Linked DNA regions of Homo sapiens: region 1 is linked to region 2. Evidence: fine-mapped expression QTL. Tissue or cell type: whole blood. Region 2 holds a variant in brackets; the other region holds the start of a gene. All regions are shown on one strand. Distances are from middle to middle. Region 1 holds the start of TPD52 (tumor protein D52). Region 2 overlaps TPD52-MRPS28 (TPD52-MRPS28 readthrough).

The links. PIP is the estimated chance that this variant, and not a neighbour inherited with it, causes the effect.
Region 1: TPD52 starts here. The variant in region 2 is fine-mapped to the expression of TPD52 in whole blood (TOPMed, PIP above 0.99). The same link has a PIP of 0.9 or more in blood mononuclear cells.

Annotation. Positions count from the first base shown.
Region 1 is chr8:80,168,643-80,174,025 of GRCh38, forward strand. TPD52 (tumor protein D52) reads right to left here and starts at 2,922. Exons shown (of 8, transcript NM_001025253.3): 1 at 2,783-2,922. The coding sequence starts at 2,801. It overlaps TPD52-MRPS28 (TPD52-MRPS28 readthrough), which reads right to left and starts at 2,922. Exons shown (of 7, transcript NM_001387778.1): 1 at 2,783-2,922. The coding sequence starts at 2,801. RefSeq lists a silencer at 2,754-3,083.
Region 2 is chr8:80,135,857-80,141,239 of GRCh38, forward strand. All of the region lies in intron 1 of TPD52-MRPS28 (TPD52-MRPS28 readthrough), which reads right to left. All of the region lies in intron 1 of TPD52 (tumor protein D52), which reads right to left. Among named protein-coding and RNA genes, the nearest start is that of TPD52, 33 kb to the right of the region's middle. RefSeq lists an enhancer at 2,723-2,772. The variant C/T (reference allele first, on the strand shown) is at 2,922.

The DNA.
Region 1 (5,383 bases), 33 kb after region 2:
AGATTCACTTAAGACTGAGTCATCCACTCTACTAGTTCTAAGATCTTCCATGTAAAGTTATCCTCCAAGCCCAGCACTGCCTTATCAGCAACTCTCTGGCTAAGTTCTGCTTCTTGAGAATAGACAGGGAAAACAGAACAGGAGAAAGTGGGAAACAAGAGATGGATTTGGAGGGACACAGAGGTTACTATGGCTGGGGCCTGCTCTTGGACACTTTCCTCACTCATCTTAGGCAGTCAACACATATTTCTAAGCACCTACTGTGTGCACTGGTAACATAAAGATGAAAAGGCAGGTAGGCAGGTGGAAGCAAGAGTAAGGAATGGCCAGGTGGTTTTGTTTTGTGTTTGTTTGTTTTTTGAGATAGAGTCTCGCTCTGTCGCCCAGGCTGGAGTGCAGTGGTTTGATCTAAGCTCACTGCAACCTCTGCCTCCCAGTTTCTAGTGATTCTCCTGCCTCAGCCTCCTGAATAGCTGGGACTACAGGCCGGTGCCACCGCGCCGAGCTAATTTTTGTATTTTTAGTAGAGACAGGGTTCCACCTTGTTGGACAGGGGTCAAACTCCTGGCCTCAAGTGATCTGCCTGCCTCAGCTTCCCAAAGTGCTGGGATTACAGGTGTGAGCCACCGCACCCAGCCTTGGCCACGTTGTTCTAACACAGCAAAGCTTTGGAGTAAATGAACTGACCCTCCCAAGGCAGTGCCTCTTCTTTCATTCGGAGCAGAGTCCTCCACCTCACCCAAAGAACATATGGGAAAATTATAGACACGAAAAGACTCATCTTACAAGATAAAGATTTGAAAAAAATATGTCTTAGAATTAGACACTTAAACTAGTCCTATAAAAACTACACAAGAAGTTGGAATACTGCAGTGCTACCAATGACTGTTGATTCTTACCACCCAAGCTAGAACACAAACACTACTAAAACTAGTTACTCCACTCACGTAAGTAAAACACAGCCGTTTAATTTACTTTGACAAGTACCAAACATAGTTATTCTAAAAACATCATTATGTCAAACGACAGTGTGTAACAGATTAGTATACAAATACACATGGGCACGTTTGTCGTCATGTCTCCCCCGTCCTGCGTCGCCCCCATTGAAAGCCAGACAGACATAATGCTGACTTACATGGTGGCCCCTAAGCCGGCTAACAATATATACAAGACATGTGACAAGCTTTCTAACTCAAACATTTGCATGTCTACTATGTACAAGTCATCATGTTATCCCACTCAGGACAACCAAAGATGAAATGTTTCTAACCTCAAGAAGCTTAAAATTTAGATAATAATATGTATGTGTATATATACGTTATACAGGTAATGTATAATATATATATACACATAGGTAACACATATAAAGCATATTGTATGTAATGTTTGTAAGCACTTGTGTTAAGTCTGAAATTAATCTGAAGGGGAGCGAGGAAAGAGCTGAAAGACTCCAAAGAGTCTATCTTACAAGTAAATGAAAGTAAAGTACAGGCCTGGCCCAGTGGCTCACACCTGTAATCCCAGCACTTTGGGAGGCTGAGGCGGGTGGATCACCTGAGGTCAGGACTTGGAGACCAGCCTGGTCAACATGGAGAAACCTCTGTCTCTACTAAAAATACAAAATTAGCCGGGCTGTGGTGGCGCACACCTGTAATCCCAGCTACTTGGGAGGCTGAGGCAGGAGAATCACTTGAACCAGGGAGGCAGAGGTTGCAGTGAGCTGAGATCCCGCCACTGCACTCCAGCCTGGGCTACAGGTGGAGACTCAAAAAAACAAACAAAAAAAACACCAGAGTCTGAAAAAAATAAAGTACAAGATAGTATATTTGGAATATGGTTTGATTTACATAAAAATGCACACATGACGGCACATACTGGAGGAAAATAAGCAATACATGAAAACTTGTGTCAGGGCTCAAAACAGGAGTGATTCCTATCCTCACTTCCCAAGATTACCTACCTTGTTTTCTTTTTTCAGCATTTATGTATCTTTTTAAAAGCGTGCCACACACATCTGCGTACAGTCACAGGCTTATGATCAGCAGAGATCTCTAGGATGAAACTATTTAAATCTGAAAACCATGGCCTACTATTGCTCTATTTGGGGGTAATTTCACTTGAGCTGTTTTCAGAAGCAAGTGCACCCAACGCTATGGTAAATTAGACTGAAGGTTTTGTGTTGTGGGATTTCACCCTTCCTACGAAAAGCTCTCTTCCCTCAAACCCACAGACACCACTCCACAATCTGGGGGTTTCTAGTATGATAAATATCTGCCTCCCAAACCCCCCATGGGTCATACGCCACCAAAAATCCTAACCACCTGAACTTAGAAGAAGGCAGAAAGTCTTAATTTATGAGGGAGAGAGGGGTTTCCCACCTGGAGGGACGAGAGCGACTCACTGTCCTCTGTTCCTGGTTCCAGTCACTTACAGGAGCTGGCTGCGCCGTGCTCCCTTCACGCGGCTTTCCACCCAAAGCGCATCACGGCCGCCAGCCCCTGACGCTAGCCCCTTCGCCACCTCCCAGAACCTTCTCTCCCTCTCCCCCACACACGCACACTCACACTCACACATGCAGTCCCATCTGCCCCCGCCAGAGCCGCTCCTTCCAGGGCCCCAGGATGCCAGATCCGGATCCGGGAGATGCAACTTGCGGCGCCGGCCCAGGAGGCTCGGCACCTGCTCGAGCCGCCGGGCCGCGCTCAGCCCCGCGCCGAGCCAAAGCCCGAGTCCAAGCCCGAGTCCAAGCCCGAGCCCAAGCCCGCTGGGTCCGCGCCCTCACCTTGCTCGCCGCGGTCCATGTCTCCAGCCCGCCGCCTCGTGTCCTCTGCAGCACCCCCGCCTGCAGCCCGTCCCGGCTCGGATCGCCCGCCGCGCCGCGCAGAGCTCCTCCTCGCCTCCGCCGGCGACTCCCGCGAAGTCCCCACCCCCAGAGGCGTCGGGCGCGGCGGCGCCGCCCGCCCTCGGCCTGGAGCGCTTTCCTGGGGCGTCACCCAACCACCTGACCCGGTCGACCTGTGCGCTCCGCCACGTCGGCGCGGGCGGCGCAGCGCTAGGAGGGCCGGGCGCACCCCGACTCCCGCACCGGCTGGAAGTCGGCCGGGAGGAGGGAAGAGGACGGCGAGGAGATGGACTCGGCCATGGAGGCTGCGTGGAGCCTGCTTGGGAACCGGGATGGCGTTTGCCTTCCACCATCAAGTTATTTATAAAATCAAAAGTTTCCTCCGAGGCCTTGGAGATGCCCTTTCTCTGCATCTGCGAACACCTACTTTCCTATACTTACAGTAGGAAACACAGGAACGTTATTTAGAAATGCCAGTGGCTCTTTTCTCTCTGTATTTTATTACCTAAATAATGCCCTATGATGTCTTCTCTAACTAGGTCATAAACCAGCATAGGTGAAAATTGCAAAGAATCTCTTGAAAAATTATATAGTCTTTTCCATAGAATGCGGATTTTTTAGGTGACTAGGAAGATTTTCATATAATAAAAATCTGTTTTGAGTGCGGGACTGAGGACAACACTAAAATGAATTAAATCAAATGAAATTAATTAAATTAACCGAAGGTCAGAATTATCAGCAGAGATCTTTGGAAAATGCGTGTTGAGGCGTCATGTCCGTTGATCAAAGGACAGTTTGAGGTTCCCGTAACAATCCAGTTCTTTTCATTAGTAGCGTTAACAATCTGTTTTCACAGGGTTTTGCAGTTACTCGTCTTCCATGAAGTCACTTTGATTGTATGGGTCATGGTCTTCAGGTGGTGTCTCAATTTCGTAAGCTATCTGAGGCTGCAAATGAAGTGGGGCTTCTTTTCTGTGTTGCTTGACGTTTAGGCCGAAGCATTGTGTAGCACTCCACAGACAACAAAGAAGCACTTATTCAGATGTTTTAAAATTACTTGTAGTTACCTGAAGTGACTGTATGCTATTAATATCTCTATACTGTCGTGCTGTATGTAAAGTGTAGCTCTCTCCAGCCTGCATCTTCCAGTGTCTTCTGGGGACGTTTACTGTTTGACTCAACCAGATGTGATCTCTTCTATTTGAGTCCTTCTACTCTGACTGCACTTGGCTCCTCTCCTGTGGCACTCACCCCAGCACTGGTGCCAGGATGCTACCAGTGTATGTTTCACAGTCCTATTAGGTTACAAGCTCCAGGTGGTAAAGTCCTTAAAATGGCCTATTAAAAAAATCAAAAAACAGGCCTGGCACGGTGGCTCACGCCTGTAATCCCAGCACTCCGGGAGGCCAAGGCGGGTGGATCACTTGAGGTCAGGAGTTTGAGACCAGCCTGGCCAACATGGTGAAACCTTGTGTCTACTAAAAATACAAAAATTGTCGGGCGCGGTGGCTCACGCCTGTAATCCCAGCACTTTGGGAGGCCGAGGCGGGCGGATCACGAGGTCAGGAGATCGAGACCATCCTGGCTAACACGGTGAAACCCCATCTCTACTAAAAATACCAAAAATTAGCCAGGTGTGGTGGCGGGCGCCTGTAGTCCCAGCTACTCGGCAGGCTGAGGCAGGAGAATGGCATGAACCCGGGAGGCAGAGGTTGCAGTGAACTGAGATCACGCCACTGCACTCCAGCATGGGCAACAGAGTGAGACTCCATCTCAAAAAAAAAAAAAAAAGTTCCAGGTGGGCAAAGATTATTTTGGTCATCTCTGCATCCTTTAATTCTACCATGCAATTAATAAATATTGTAATTTTAAACCAGGCATGGTGGTGTTTGCCTGTAAACCCAGCTACTCAGGAGGCTAAGGCAAGAGGATTGCTTGAGCCCAAAAAGGTGCAATATTTTTTAAAAAATTTTTAATGTAACATAAAGGTAAATTTTGGCATCAGCAGAAAATTCTGTATGTGGTAAAGAATTTTTGACTAGCTGATGCTGAGATCTATTGTATAGAAATAAACATCTGGAGAGACAATCTCTCAATGTACTAATTTGTGGACAAATAAATAGCACTTGAACGTGAGTGTCCGTTACAAATATTTATTGTTTGTATCTGTTTAACTTACTATATAGTGATGAACTTGTTATGTATGCTGAAAGGAAAAAAAGTCTTATCTTTTGAAGAGCTTATAGAGTAGTTCACATGCAGCAGAGATGGCAAATAGCCTACCTGATAAACAGCCTTCCTGTTTTCCTTCCTAAGATAACCTAAATATTGTTTGGAGTGGCAATGTGCCCAGCTGAAACACTGGGCACTTCAAACTGCCTTGCAGCTGGAGGTGGGTCTCTCTCATTAATGTCCAATGAGATGTGAGCAAACTGTACTAATTGGAATCTCCAAGAAAGCATTTAAAAAGAAGACAGACTTGGCAGCATTACTTGGCCCTTCACCCTTCCCATTCCTGCTTAGAGGGGCAATAGCCATTTT
Region 2 (5,383 bases):
TCATTCTCAGTAAACTATCACAAGAACAAAAAACCAAACACCGCATATTCTCACTCATAGGTGGGAAGTGAACAATGAGATCACATGGACACAGGAAGGGGAATATCACACTCTGGGGACTGTTGTGGGGTGGGGGGAGGGGGGAGGGATAGCATTGGGAGATATACCTAATGCTAGATGACGAGTTAGTGGGTGCAGCGCACCAGCATGGCACATGTATACATATGTAACTAACCTGCACAATGTGCACATGTACCCTAAAACTTAAAGTATAATAAAAAATAAATTAATTAATTAAAAAAAAAAATTTCAGTCTTTGAGGTTAAAAAAAAAACAAGCACACTCACACACACATTTAAACAAAAGTTGACATTTAAGAAAACAATGGCCGGGCGCGGTGGCTCACGCCTGTAATCCCAGCACTTTGGGAAGCCGAGACGGGTGGATCATAAGGTCAGGAAATCGAGACCATCCTGGCTAACACGGTGAAACCCCATCTCTACTAAAAATACAAAAAATTAGCCGGGCGTGGTGGTGGGCACCTGTAGTCCCAGCTACTCAGGAGGCTGAGGCAGGAGAATGGCAGGAACCCGGGAAGCAGAGCTTGCAGTGAGCTGAGATCACGCCACTGCACTCCAGCCTGGGCGACAGAGCGAGACTCTGTCTCAAAAAAAAAAAAAAAAAAAAAAAAAAAAGAAAACAGTGCTCACCATTAGAACATGAAGGACATTTTGGTCTCATACTGTTCTACTACTTTGTTCTTCTTAAAAAAACACTTGGTCAAAATCCACAACCCAGTAAAAGGTCCCAAGAAACAGTATGGAGAATATATCCGAAGACATACTTCTGAACACTCAACAGCTCCTAAAATCCTCCTAGGTAGAGACAAAGGCAAAAAACTGAAATAATAAATCCCCCTTCACCCCAATCATGTGTAAATACTTAGTTCCACTTCACCCACATCCATAAAATACACAATAAATGCTGGGGCTTTCATCTAATCAAGAACAACCTCAGGCAGTTTCTATTCAAATATAAATAATTATCCAGGCCCCAAAATTCTTCTCCTAGTTCCACAGGTAATGACTGGAAAATCTACAAACAACTTCAGCTAAAACTCCCTTATCACTCTTAACAAGTATGGCTCAAAGACAAAATTTCAATCTTTTCCAATTTTTTTTAAAGTAGGCAGGCAGCAAAATAAAACATCAGCAAAAGCTAAATGTGCTTGGATAAAGCACAATTAAATACATGTTTGTATTTTTCCAAAATGGACCACAGGTTGCTATTAAAAAGAGTAATAAAATCAATCTATAGAAACTAAATAGATAAGTGTTTGCCTGCGGGCACGGGATGTGGAGTGGCTGTAAATAGACACAGGGTGATGAAAATATTCTAAAATTAGATTGTGGTGATCACTGCACAACTCTGTAAGTTTACTAGAAATCACTGAATTGTACATTTAAAACAAGTGAATTTTAAGGTAAACTATATGGTGATTATTTATGGCAAATTATATATCAATAAAGCTTTTTTCTTAAAAAATGGAAACTATATGTTAGATTTTTTTTTTAATATCCAAGATACGTGTCAGTTAAAACAAGCAAAGTACAGAATAATGTGTATGACATGTTCCCATTTGAACTTTTAAAGTGATTGTATACATTACCTGCCTAGACATTTCTGGAAGGACACCCAGAGGCTGATCATAACAGCCGCTCTGGGAGAAATGGGTCTAGGCTAAGAGAGTTTGAGTTTTAATTGCATACTGTTTGGATTCATTTGCTTTGAACATGTATTATTTTTCATAAGTATGAAAATAAGATGGGTGGAAGCCCTCAGGAGTAGGACTCTTACAGCAGTACCAAGTTTATAACGGTGCTAGTTCATATTGTTCTTTGAGAAGGGGATAGTTTGGTCCTTCAGAATTTAAATATTTCAGCAAGGTAGGGTGGCCTGTAATTCCAGCACTTTGGGAGGCCAAGGCGGGAGGATCACTTGAGCCCACGAGTTCAATGCTGCAGTGAGTCATGATTGTGCTACTGCACTCCAGCCTGAGCGACAGAATGAGACCCCGTCTCTTTTCTTTTTTTTTTCTTTTTTTTGAGACAGAGTTTCACTCTTGTTGCCCAGGCTGGAGTGCAATGGCACGATCTTGGCTCACTGCAACCTCGCCTCCCAGGTTCAAGCAATTCTCCTGCCTCAGCCTCCCAAGTTGCTGGGATTACAGACATGCGCCACCACGCCCGGCTAATTTTGTATTTTTTGTAGAGATGGGGTTTCTCCATGTTGGTCAGGCTGGTGGTGAACTCCCGACCTCAGGTGATCCGCTCGCCTCAGCCTCCCAAAGTGCTGAGATAACAGGCATGAGCCACCGCGCCTGACCATGAGACCCTGTCTCTAATTATTTCTCAGTAGAAGTCTGCGTTAAAAGGTACCTGTGTTTGACAATAAGAGGCCAAGTGACAGAATCTTCCAACTGAAATCTGATTTCATAAAATCCAAGAGGAAGAGAATTTGAATGCCCTCTTAGGAGGAAAATGGGGTTCATATCATTTAGTCGTCTCCTTCGGCAGGTGCTGGAACACAACTCAAAGTGGCTTATGGTTTGCAATTATAAATCTGGGAAGAGATTAGATACATTATATCTGAGTACAGGACTATATGCATCTAGGGAGTTGAAAACATAGTCCTCATAGAGCTTTATCAAAAAGAAAAAGAATATGCAAATAAAAAACTAAAACTGAATCCAAAAAGGTAGCTGAACACCACACTCTCAAATGTTGTAACCAGACTTTTGACAACTGCTCAGATCCAGGCCTGGGTTCTACCATCTTGCCTCAGCTCATTTTTGGCTTTGGTTCCTAATTGAGCTCTTCACCTCGCTATTTAAGGACACTGGCTCTCTGAACATTGAGAAC[C/T]TGTGGCTCACCGCATCCTCCCCTCCCCACCTTAGGCTCATCCTGTCATCAGACGGCTTCCTGATTTACAAGGCCAAGGTAACCAAAATTTGGACCATAAAATATTAGTATTCTCAACTTTCAAACACGAGCCAACCAGATGACCTGTTTCCAGGATCATGGCAGCCCCTCCGACCCAGAGCCTCTCCTGCTAGTGGGGTCTTCTTCCTCCAGTGCCTCCACTGACAAAGGAGCCACCGTCTCAGCCACCCCATGAGTCTGCCTCCCGTGAGATTTCTACAACTGACACTGCAGCCCCCACTTCCACTCTCATCTATTTGTGCCACTTGGATTATTTCAACTATATTATTCAACACTCAGCCACCTGTATTTACTGAATGGCTGCTCTGCCTAAGACACTGGCAGGGAGGGGAGAAAATAAGGGTATTTTTACAGTAACAATTAGGACAGTGTTTTGTTTCTAATAGCAGCTTGAGAAATAATTCGCATACTATAAAATCCACTATTTTTTTATAAAGAGTATGGTTCACTGGTTTTTAGTATATTCACAGAGTTATGCAAACATCACCGCAATCTAATTTTCATACCCCAAAAAGAAACCCACATCCATCAGCAGCCTAGGCTAGTATTTTTATGAAAAAAAAAATTTTTTCAGAGTTTCAGACTTGCAAACTTTTAAAACATTTAAAATTATAAACTGTCCAGGTTATCCAAAGACTGTACAGTATATGGTCCAGATTAATACAGTTAATAATTACCCACTCTGGGGCATATGCAACTTCAAGGGCAGAGGTAAAGATTTGCCTTGGGGAAAAATTCAGCACAACCATGAAAATAACAAGTAGCAATAAACGGGGGGTGGGGGTGAGGGCGGGGAAGGGGTTGCATTTGGATAGCGCCTCCCAATGCACTTGAACACTATAGCTAACAATACTGCATTATACACTTAAAAATTTGTTAAGAGGTTAGATCTCATGTTAAGTGTATTATCAAAATCAAATAAAATACAACGGCGTTTTTCAATCCTCCTAACCATCTTGACAGGAATACAAGACATTTACAAATGGGGAGCCTGATGTTCGGGGGATGGATGCCTGACTCCCAGTCACCCAGCTAGGGGACCCCACCCGGCTCTTCTGATTATCTGGCAGAAGTGAGCAAAACAGCTCAATCCAGCAGGCTCCATGTTAGCAGTAAGCAACTCTAATTTCATATCTGACTGAAAAAAGAAAAGAAGCCTATTTATGCTCTCAACATAATAAAGCAGCCTTTGTTTTATGCTAAGGCCCTGGTGATTTTTTCAGCACCAGTCCAGCTGTGACACACAGACGCTGGTTCGATGCCTGCATAAATGCTTTCTCTTTGTTTAGTGGTGAGAACGTGAGACCTCACTAAGGCCCAAGTCCTGGGTTCTCCTGATGTCAACCCCACAAGTGAGTAGTGGAGCCTCACTGGCAAGGAGACCTACCTGTGCCTTTCCCAAATGCCTGGGAAGGTAGGTTAGAGTTAGAATCTTTTAATTAAAATGAGGTAAAATTCTAATTACTCCACAGTTGTCTCCAGAATAACATCATTTCCAACTCATCAAGTCTTATTAGAACCGGAACCACTGGGAACACCAGCTCCACCTTGTTAACTAAAGAAAACAGCTCGCTTTTTCCAGGAACATTAACTCTTTTTTCAGACATAAAGTAGTATTTAATGGTTTTGCTTATTAGTCTCCAAGCCATTAATGACCTGAAAGAGATTAAACAACTTTTGAAAAGTAATCCATTGTAAGTAACAACGGTTAAGGCTTCCTTGTAGCTACGAAAAACACCCAGAGTGCAGGACACTCACTTAAAATTAACACTGACTTGGATGCACACCACACACAAACAAATACAACTCCCACATGTAATCTATTTTTATATGAATTGGTTGAAGGTGGTAACAAATTCTAAACAATATGATGTACGTAAAAGGGTTAGCTGCACCGCACTCTAGGAAACTATTGCACCAGCTTCTACTCCTGCACCACTTAGCAACAGGAAAACGATGGGGAAACACTACCAAACTAACGAGTGGGTCACCTCAGATTTGATTTAACCCTAAACTCAACAATCTCAGGAAGTTCTGTCATACCGGCAGGAAGAACAGACCAAGAGGAGCATTTTCAGGGGCAATACAACTCGTGTGTGTGTGTGTGTGTGTGTGTGTGTGTGTGTAGAAAGAGTATCAATCATGACATTATGAGGCATGGATGAACCACACCACCCAGTGTTAGCAACACGTGGATCATCTGTGGCTCTGTGCATGTGTCACTTTCCACAGTTACATACAAAATGTAACTCCACTACTAGACTAAGCTGTTTGAAGGTTAATTCCACATCACATTCATACTCCATGCAACTCACGACACATCAGCCTCACCTCCCAGACATCACTCCTAATCCCCTAAATTCCAGCTACAGACGCCCTGT